Regions from separate parts of the Homo sapiens genome. Here region 2 is linked to region 1. The links come from fine-mapping of genetic effects on plasma protein levels. A gene starts in region 1. The other region holds a variant in brackets. All regions are shown on one strand. Distances are from middle to middle. Region 1 holds the start of RAB44 (RAB44, member RAS oncogene family). Region 2 overlaps RAB44 (RAB44, member RAS oncogene family).

The links. PIP is the posterior inclusion probability: the model's chance that the variant is causal. Protein levels are from antibody-based Olink assays in UK Biobank. Linkage for the fine-mapping came from a reference panel and not from the study's own genotypes, which makes the PIPs less certain.
Region 2: its variant is fine-mapped to the plasma level of the RAB44 protein (UK Biobank, PIP above 0.99). The variant lies in the coding sequence of RAB44. If it changes the protein, the assay may bind it differently, which can mimic a change of level.

Annotation. Positions count from the first base shown.
Region 1 is chr6:36,694,686-36,700,060 of GRCh38, forward strand. It overlaps RAB44 (RAB44, member RAS oncogene family), which reads left to right and starts at 3,141. Exons shown (of 14, transcript NM_001257357.2): 1 at 3,141-3,230.
Region 2 is chr6:36,728,447-36,733,821 of GRCh38, forward strand. RAB44 (RAB44, member RAS oncogene family) reads left to right here. Exons shown (of 14, transcript NM_001257357.2): 12 at 254-355; 13 at 2,227-2,303; 14 at 3,557-4,738. The coding sequence ends at 3,647. Among named protein-coding and RNA genes, the nearest start is that of RAB44, 33 kb to the left of the region's middle. The variant G/A (reference allele first, on the strand shown) is at 2,248.

The DNA.
Region 1 (5,375 bases):
TGAATGTGTGTGCTTATCTATTTTTTTCTTTTTTTGAGACAGGGCCTCATTCTGCCGCCCAGGCTGGAGTGCAGTGGTACAATCACGGCTCACTGCAGCCTTGACCTCCAGGGCTCAGGCGATCCTCCCACCTTAGCTTCCCGAGTAGCTGGTACTACAGACATGCGCCACCACGCCTGGCTAATTTTGTTTATTTTTTATAGAGACAAGGTTTCACCTTGTTGCCCAGGCTGGTCTTTAACTCCTGGGCTCAAGCAATCTGCCTGTCTCAGCCTCCAAAAGTGCTAGGATTACAGGTGTGAGCCACCTCACCTGGCCTGTATTAGTCCATTTTCACACTGCTATAGAGAAATACCGGAAACTGGGTAATTTACAAAGGAAAGAGATTTAATTGACTCACAGTTCCATATGGCTGGGGAGGCCTCAGGAGACTTACAATCATGGCGGAAGGTGAGGGGAAGCAAGGACCTTCTTCACATGGCAGCAGGGGAGGAAAGTATATAAGCACAGGAAAAACTGCCATTTATAAAACCATCAGCTCTCTTGAGAATTCACTCACTGTTACGAGAACAGCATGGGGGAAACTGCCCCCATAATCCAATCACTTCCTTCCTTTGACACATAGGGAGTATAATTCAAGATGAGATTTGGGTGAGGACATAAAACTTAACTATATCACGGCCCTTATCTATTGCATATATTTCATACACACACATACACTTTTTTCTTCATAAAAAGCACACTATCCTCACTGTTCTGCACCTTACTTTTTTCATATGACACAATATCTTGAAGGTCATTCCATATCACTCCACCTGGATCTTTCTCATTTTCTTCACGGTGCAGAGTATGCCAATGTTCGGATGTATCAGAGCTCATTTAACCAGCTCCCTACTGATGGAAATTTAGATCATTTCCAATCCTTTGCTACCACAGACAATACTGTAATGAGTATCCTTCCATACTGTCATATTGTATATCATCTGTGGAATCAATGACTGAAAGTGAAATTGCTGGGTAGAAAGATTTTTGCATTTTAAATGTTGACAGATATTATACACTTCTTTTCATAAAAGTTGTACCAGTTTATATTCCTGCCAATAATGTGTGAATGTGTTTCCTACATCCTTTATGACATAATATATCACTTTTTGGATCTTACTAATTGAATAGCTGAAAATGATGTCTCGGTGTAGTTTTATTTTTTATTTTTACCCTCATCTTCTTTGTGATGGTACGTAGTTTTATCTTTTATTTCTCTTATTATATTTTTATAAACAGAAATGTTTACTTTTATAAATATTTTTCATATGTTTAAATCCATTGATATTTATTTTTCCATGAATTGTTTATTCACATATGGTGCCAATTTCTCTAATGCATTATTGGTCTTTCATTGATCTGCAGGAGTTCTTTACAGAGGGAGGAAATTAACTTATTTTCTATGATACGTAAGTATTTTTTCAGAGTTTGCCTTTTGACTTATCAGTGGTGACCTTTTTTTGCCATTCAGTTTTATTTATTTTTAAAAAGTTTCCGTATGGTTGAATGGCTCAATATTTTCTTTTGTGGCTTCTAATGCTTTGTGATATATCTGGAAAGGCCTTGCCTAATCCAAGATTATTTAAAAATTATCCCATGATCTCTTTCTTCCTTTTTTTCTTCTTTCTCTTCTTCTTCTTCTTCTTCCTCCTCCTCCTCCTTCTTCTTCTCCTTCTTTATTATTATTATTTTTTAATGGAGACGGGGTCTCACTATGTTGTCCAGACTGGTCTTGAATTCCTGGGCTCAGGCGATCCTCCTGCCTCAGCCTCTCAGAGTGCTGGGATTACAGGCATGAGCCACCACACCCAGCCTATCCCATGACAGATCTATCTTTCCTTCCTTCCTTCCTCTTTTTTTCTTTCTTTCTTTCTTTCTTTCTTTCTTTCTTTCTTTCTTTCTTTCTTTCTTTCTTTCTTTCTCTTTCTTTCTTTCTTTCTTAGTTTCTTTCTTCTTTCTTTCTTTTTTCTTTCTTCTCTTTCTCTCTCTTTCTTTCTCTCTCTTCTTTCTCTTTCTCTTTCTCTCTCTTCCTTCTTCCTTCCTTCCTCCCTCCCTCCCTCCCTCCCTTCCTTCCCTCCTTCCTTCCTTTTCTTTCCTTCCTTCTTCTGCAACCATGGCAAATGAACTATGCCATGATTTCTTATGGCATTTGTTCAAACATACAGAAAAGCAGAAGAACATAATGAGCCTGCAGTACCCTCATTAACTCCAGCAGGGATCAGAACAGGTCCAGAGCCAGTCTTGTTTCATCTATGTCCTACCTATTCTCCACACTCTTCAATAATTTTGAAGTAAATCCCAAACAACATATAATTATGTGATTTTGATTTTTAAAATGCTTATGTCTTTTATCCATCTGGAATGCTTTTAGAGTTAGAGCTCTTTGTTTTTTGCAGATACCTAGCCCATTCTCCCAACATAGTTTATTGAATAAACCATCTCTTCTCCAATGATTTGAAGTGGTGCCTTTATGATACACTAAATCCCCACAAATATTTGAGTCTATTCCTGTCCCACAAATATTTGAGTCTATTTCATTATTCTGTTCCACTGATTCATCTGTCTATAGTCATGCTCCAATTCCACACTGTTCTGATGGTTGTAGCTCTACAGTGTATTTTGGTATCAGACTAGATTGTTCCCTAAAAGGTGGTTTAGATATAAAGCCTCCCCTGAGGCTCAAAGACACTGTCTGAGAGTGAGGGCCTGAAGTGAGGCAGGATGGGCAGTTCTCCCGGGGCATCCCATACACTTAGCTTCAGCCACGGCTGTGCCCATCAACCTGCTGCTGTCTGGGATAAGGCATTGCCTTGGCAACCAGAGACTGAGGCCCAGTCCTGGCTGTGCCACTAAGGGCTGGGTGATCTTGAGCAGTCCATCTCACTCTTTGGAGCCTCTGCTTAGGAGGGCCTCCCTGCCAGCTCCAGCATTCTCCACTTCAAGACACCAATCAGGGCAGGGATGCCTGGGGGTGCCAGGCAAAATTGTGAAAGGGCCGCCAGTGGTCGCTTCCACAGGAAGTCCTGTAGATGAGCACAGGAGATTGGCTCGCTGGGGAACGGAAAGGGAGATTAAGCAAGACAAGACTGTTAACAGTTCTAGAGCTCGTGGGCTCCGCAGGGCAGCAGTCACCCTACCACCAGGTCCCAGAGCCCAGGGCTGTGTGTTCCACTGGGAGCCTTTGAGAGGTAGGAGCCATCCCAAGGTTGCAATGCTTCTTTTTCTTTGGAAGGATGAGGATGGGGGAGGGAGCTGGGGTCCCTGTTTAACTTCTATGTCAAGGGTGCAAAAGGCAGAGCCCTCTTTTCTCCTGCATTTGGAGCTCTCTGCATGGTCTAAGGGAGGGGATGGGAAAGCACTTGGGCAAGAGGCTGGGGTACATCACTACCCGTAAATGGCTGTGTGACCTAGGGCAAGTCACCTGGTTTCTCAGAGCCTCAGTTTCTCTGTTAGTTAGGAGAGGAGGAGTGAGGATAAGTAGACTGGAACAAGACACTAGGTGGTCTCTCAGGCCCACTGACTTGGACCACTGGGGTTTAGCGACTGTGGCTATTATTTACAGCTATTGAAGCCAGCCAAGTGGAGAGCAGACCCAGTTCTGAGCGCCCTTTGGTGAGACAGTGATGGATACCCGGAGGCCCCAGGCAGGGCCCATGCCAGGTTGTAATCTGCTGCTGCCTGCTGCCCCACCCCACTCTTCTTCTCTGGCTTCCACTTCCTGGTGGGCAGCCTGTGGTGCCTGCTGCCTAACAGAATACCACGGTGGTAGTGGATTCCCGCAGGTGCTTGGGAGTGGGATTCATTTGCTCTCATGTTTGGCTTCAAGTTTTATGCGATTTCTTAGGTGAGGGATGTGGGGAGAGGTGGTCATGCTGAGGGGCTATATGTGTGTCCTAGCCATGAAGGGGTCCCCCACTCTTAAGGACGTGAGGCATGAGGATGCACTAAGGGGAAAGTGGTGGAGGAGAAGGGCGCTGGCAGGGTGGCCCTGCCAGCTGACTCGGAGGGATGTGTGTGCTGGGCGACGGCATTTGCACATGCAGAATGGAATGATGGAATGGCCGTGAGGGGTGCTGTGTCTGACTGAGAGGCTGATGGTGAGGGATTGGAGGGTGAGGATGATGGCCAAGGAGGGTGTGTGTGCGTGCACGTTTGCACGTGTACATTTGTGGATTGACTGAAGGATGTCCTTGCTGTCTCTGAGGGACCAGGCCTGGCCTAGAAGGGACACAGACTGTTTTTAGGTTGTGCTGTCAGGCCGTGGGGGTGCTGTCAGGGATCTGAATGTGAAGGCACGAGGGGTGAGTGCACCATCCCACCTGATGGTGACAAGTGACTGATTTTGAGGTGGCGATGGCTGGAGGGCACCTGCTGCCTTCCTGCCCCAGGCCACCTGTCAGGCAAGGAGCGGGTGGCTGAGTACCCCTCCTGGGAGAGAAGGATTGACTGGCAGAGAGGGCAGATGCTGAGGTGGGGCAGGCGAGGTGTCTGGAAGGTGCTATTTTCTTAAAAAATGCCAGGGGACTGCTGGAAATGGGCTGTGGAGGTGTAGCTTGGCTAGGAACTCCCAGAAAGGAAAGTCAGGAATGCCACATGTCCTAGGATGTGGCTGCAGGGAATTTCTTCCAGGATTCTAACATCCTACACCTGTGGGAGCCCGGCAGGCTGCGATGTGACACTCACATCACAGTGGACTTTGCTTCTGGAGGCTTCTGCACAGGGAATCTTATCTTGCTCCCTTGGCCGTGTTAGCTCCATTGCCGGAAGTACATGAGACATTGGGCGTCACCACAGGAGCCAAGCCTGTCAACGCCCACCCCGTTCCAAAGCCCTTGTCCCACTCAGGGCTACTCCACTGGGTGTTTGTCATCCCCAGAGGGGCCTTCTGCCCAGGGAAGAGCCACCTCTGTAGCCTTGGGGAAGTCCATCCCATGACCAACCAGAAGAGCAGAGTCTGGTGTAGTTCTACCACTGACATCATGGCTGGGGCAGGTCACTCTGCCTCTTGGAACCTCCCTCAGTTTCCTCATCTGTCAAATGGGATCAATTGTATCTGCATGGAACCTGGCTTTTATGTGCCTCAAATAGAATTCACCTTTATCAATATCATCACCACTGTTGTCATTGCTACCTTTACCTGGTAGTCACTGATACCAAGCGCACTCCTAAGTGGCTTTATGTGGATCATATATTCAGCAAATATTTGCAGAGTACCAACTGTGTGCCAAGCGCTGTTCTAGGCTCTTGGGATAGAACAGTGAACAGAATGGTCATCTCCCTACTCACGTGAGGCCTCTATTTCAGCATGAGGAGAAGGAAAATTTACAACAAAA
Region 2 (5,375 bases), 34 kb after region 1:
AGAGGACATGGGCAGGAACAACCCAGGAAGGCTTCCTGGGGGAGGTGTTCTTAAGGTTGGCCTTGGAAAATAAGTGAGATGTTTATCAGCAGAGAGGAAGGATGGGGGAAAGGGTCCAGGTGAGAAGGTTATGGAGTGGATGTGGCCTGGGAGGGGGAACATGCGGGGGACACAGTTCAGCTTCTAGGAAGGCAAATGTGCCAGGAGCCTGGCACACAGTGGGTGTGGCTGACAGAACATGTTCTGTGTGCAGGATGCAGGGTCGGATGGGGTGGTCATCCTTCTCCTGGGAAACAAGATGGACTGTGAGGAGGAACGGCAAGTGTCCGTGGAAGCTGGGCAGCAACTGGCCCAGGTAAGCACTTGGGCATCAGCCCGTCTCTGTGCGTGGACTGGGCAGACACCTCCCTGGCAGGTGGTGGATAGGCATCACCTGACCTGGGCAGCCGAGAAGAACCCGTGGCCCATTCCTGCCCCTGCCCCAACCAAAGGCCTGTTCAGAGTGGACAGCAGCCTAGCCACCTCTGCCTCCCACACAGCCCTGGCCTCTGGAGATGCGCTTTAAGCCCAAACCCAAGGCTGGAGTGGCGGGCGTGACACTGAACCTCACTGTTGAATTAGCACATTCCCACACCATGTCCCCACCTACATAAGAAATAGCTTCAGAGTAAAAAGGTTTTGAAAGCTTTGCTTAAAATTCCCAATCAAATTTTAATTTTATCTCTGGTCTCTAATTAACGTGCTGCCTTCTAAGTTCTCCTATTTTAAGACTCAAATTCTCCCTTGGGATGATTACATCAAAAGCCCCACTGCCAGACAGTGAACACTATCTATTCATGAATGGCATTTAACCACATTCCAGAAAATCTGGAGAGTAATAAAAATAGAGGGAAAAATCACTCCTCGCCCCACCTCTCACACAACCCCTCTTGGCATCTTCCTACTGTATTTCCTTCCTGTTTCTCTTCCCACTTCCCGTAAATTGTGAGGTCATCATTGTGGCTCCTGCTGGAAGGGAATTTTTTTTCTTTCTTTCTTTCTTTTTTTTTTTTTTGAGATGGAATCTTGCTCTGTCACCCAGGCTGGAGTGCAGTGGCACGATCTTGGCTCATTGCAACCTCCGACTCCCGGGTTCAAGCGATTCTCCCACCTCAGCCTCCTTAGTAGCTGGGATTACAGGCATGTGCCACCACGCCCGGCTAATTTTTGTATTTTTAGTAGAGACGGGGTTTCACCATGTTGGCCAGGCTGATCTGGAACTCCTGACCTCAAGGGATCTGCCTACCTCGGGCTCCCAAAGTGCTGGGATTACAGGCGTGAGCCACCATGCTCGGCCTTTTTCTTAAAAGTAGTAACTCATCCCTTTGACATAGTAATTTATCCTCTAGCAATTTATCGTAAGGGAAGACTCAGAAGTAATAATCCCTAAAGGAACACCTAATGGATACCCATGTATAACGTACAATCGAACAGGTTTATATGAGGGTTTTCAAATATTATTTATAAGAACAAACATTTGGCAGCAATTGGTGGTTAAACTGTGGATGTTCATGTGAGAGGTTAGTATTTGCCATTAAGAATCCTGTCTTGGAAAAATATTTAAGGGTGTGGGGGAAATGCTTACAATATAATAGAAAATCATATAAGCAGCTACAAATCTAGATATAGGTTAGGTTGAAACATATGAAATTGCTGATATTTGACTGGAGCTTGCCAAAAATAGCAATTTCGTGTGGTTTAACCTAACTGTACAGGACAGTTAGCCCCCGCCCCGTAAAAGGGTTATATAAAACAGAATGGCAATATCTACCCAAACACTAACAGCAGTGGTTTAGATATTGAGCTGGTACTGTCTTATACTATATCTTCCAATATTCCCCCAATGAAATATTTCTGAAATTAAAAAACATAACTAACATTTATAAAATGTCTCCAGGGGCATTTCTCCAAGTTGGGATGCAGGCTTCCCATGCCACTCCGAAGGCTGTGAAATGTCTCTTCAATGCATTCCTTGACACCTTGGCCAGCCGGGGTGAAGGGACAGTGGGCAAAGGGCTCCAGGCAGGGACCGTGGCCCACGCTGAGATGGGGCTGTCTTGCTCGCCACTGAGGTCAGCTTAGGGATGCATTGGGACTCTGATGGCCGGGACTTTAGTGGCGGGGTATGGCCTGGCCTTTCAGTTGTCTCTCCCAAGGCACATATGTCCCTCCCTGTCTGGCCTGCAGGAACTGGGGGTCTATTTTGGG[G/A]AGTGCAGTGCCGCCTTGGGTCACAACATCCTGGAGCCTGTAGTAAACCTGGCCAGGTAAGTGCTGCCCGCCCCCCGCCGCCCCCACCCCCCCCCTTGCAGAATCCTCTGGGACAGCTCCGGCCCCACTCTTGACTCCCAGGTGGGACAGGAAGGCCCATTCTGAGGAAATGGGTCAGGGAAGCACCTAGTTAAAGACCTGGGCTCACCAGTCTGAGGGGAGAGAGAGCCCTGCACTGAGAGTCTCCTGACTCCAGCTCTGCCCTTCCCGTTCGCTGAATCACTCCCCACAGGCACTTAGGCTCTCTGAGCCTCAGTTTTTTCATTTGCAAAGAGGGCTGAGAAAAGGAGTGTCTCTCTTCTGCTCCCAAACTTCCAGTAGCTTCCATTAAAATCCAAATGCTTTGCAATGGCCTGCAGCATCTCTAGTGCCATCTCCCCCACCCCTACACACACACACATTCACTCACACCCACACACACTCACACTCTTACACACACTCACACTCACACACACACACTTGCCAAGTTCCAGCCACTCAGAGACTCCCTCCCTGATCACCCACCTGCCATCACTATTTTGGATCACAGCCCCTGTTTGTGTCCTTCATGGCCCTTCTTGACACGACACATATTAATGATATATGCATTTATCTGTTTTCTTGTTGTCCAGGAAGGCAGGGCCATGTCTGTTTTGTTCAGCCCCTCTCCCCATACCTGGGACCTAGGTGCTCCATAAATGAATAAAATGAGTAAGGCATGAGGGGAGCTAGATCAGATGAGCACCATCTGGCACACAGTAAATATATCACGAAGAAATGAATGGACTTCTTTTGCTTCCCCAGCCTCCAAGCTCTCTCGGCACTGAGCCGCGCCATGGCCCTCTGCTTGGGATGCACCTCCCCCACCCTTTCTGCTGGCATACCTTGTCCATGGCTCAGTTCGGTCACCATCTCCTTCCTCCCCAGATCCCTCCAGGACCTGGTGTGAAGTCCCTGTGTGCCTCCCCATCATTCCCGGGCTGCAGTCACCCCTTTTCCTGTCTGTCTCTCTCACTACTCAAGGGAGGGAATGGTGGCTTCTTTGTCATAGTCAGAGTCCTGCACAGTGCCTGGCACATAGTAGGCCAGAAAGAGAAGGTCAAAGTCTCAGTGACTCAATTCTTCGGGTCTCATGTGGAATGCAGGGCAGGGGCAGAGCTGTTGTGGGGGTTGTGGGTGCGGCCTCCCACCCCCCAGCTGCACCCATGGGCCCATCCGTGCTGCCCGTAGGAGGTGAGAGAGAGGCCTGATGCCTGGCACTGTCACATAGGTCACTCAGGATGCAAGAAGAAGGCCTGAAGGACTCGCTGGTGAAGGTGGCCCCCAAGAGGCCGCCCAAGAGATTCGGCTGTTGCTCCTGATCACCTGTCCTGTCCTGGGTAGGATGGACACCCATGGGGTTTCCTGTCCCTCAGCTCCTGTCCTTTGTTCCTGGACAGCAACGACACAGAGGACCAGCTTGGAGGTTCAGGAAAACCCTTCTCAACTCAGGACTCGGATCCCAGAGCAGGGCCGCATCACCTCTGCCTTTCACACTCCAAAGGAGGGCTTTGCTGAGTGAACAAGGCTTGAGGGGCAGGGGTATGGCAAAACTCTCCAAACAAAGAAAGTCTAGAAAAACGACTTAAGGAAAATACACCAAAATATTGGCCGCACATCTGTGGGTGTAAAATTTTAGGGAGAATGTGGGGGGGGGGTGTTACTTTCCATTTTACACATATTTGTATTTTCAGATTTTCAACAATAACAGTATTCAATACATAATCAGAAAAAAGAGATGTGGAGGAGGAGGAGAGAAACTTCCCAAGGAGCTCCCTTGGGTGCTGCTGGCTCCTAATTAGTGTAACCTGTTAATCACATGTTGCTCGGTGTTAGAGCGGTCCCTCTGTGCTCTGCTTGGCAGGGCGCTGTTGGCCTGGTCTCCCTCGCTATTTCTATTTGCAAGCATGGGCTTTCTTCCCAGCAGAATCTGGTTCCTGGGAAGAGTAATGTTCCAAAGGCCTCTGATATGCCTCGATGCCCTCCTGTCTTCCAGAGCCCCAACCTCACTCCCTTTCCCCACCATACAAAACACACCTCCCAGGGGTCACATTTGGGGGTCCCGCCCCCTGCTCCAATGCCATGGTGTCCCCAAGCACAGGGCTTTGGCCTGAGTTGTCAGTCTCTGGATGCATTTGAGGGGCAGCTAGGGTGTGGCTGGGGGGTCCAAGCAGCTGGGGAGCCGAGACTCAGAATCATTCACACACTTCTATTTGGAGCTTTTGTGGAAGTTTCCAGAATTCCATAATATTCACCTCCTGAATGGTGGCTGCCCCTTATCAGCTAGGGCTGGGGTTTCCAGTGCCCTCGGAGAGCTTGCTTTAGAGTCTTGGAGAGACGGCCATGGTCTTCGTTTGTATGTCTGTCACATCTTACCATCATCACAAATTGAATATACAACATGTGCCAGGCACTGAATTTGTTTGTTTGTTTTTTGAGACAGGATCTCTCTCTGTTGCGCAGGCTGGAGTACATTGGCATGATCGCCACTCACAACAGCCTCAACTGTCTGGGCTCAAGTGATTCCCCCACCTCAGCCTCCCAAGTAGCTGGGACCATGGGCACATGCCACCACATCCGGCTAATTTTTTAGCTATTTGCAAACACAAGGTCTTGCAATGTTGCTTAGGCTGGTCTCAAACTCCTGGGCTCAAGTGATCCTCCCAATGTGCTGGGATGACAGGCGTGAGCCACCGCCCCCAGCCTGGGTTTGGTATTTTGTAATCCTTCAGGTACTGGGGAATTTCCTGGCTGAATCAATGGAAACCCCAGTTTCATAGGGGGACAAGCAAAGACAGTTCAAGGAACAGAGTTACAGAGAGAGAGAACGAAGGAGAAAGAGGGAGCAACAGAGGGCTGTTGCATCACACAGTCTTAGGCCCTGGCCCCAACCCCTCTTCTCAGTTCTGAAAGGAACGTCTCAGCAGCAGTGAGCCTTCCATCACCAGAGGCGCACAAGAAGACAGGTAATGCTTGGCAAAGGTGAGGTAGAGAAGATCCCAGCATCTGAAGCTGCCAAAGTTGGATTAGATTCCCTTAATGGACCCCAT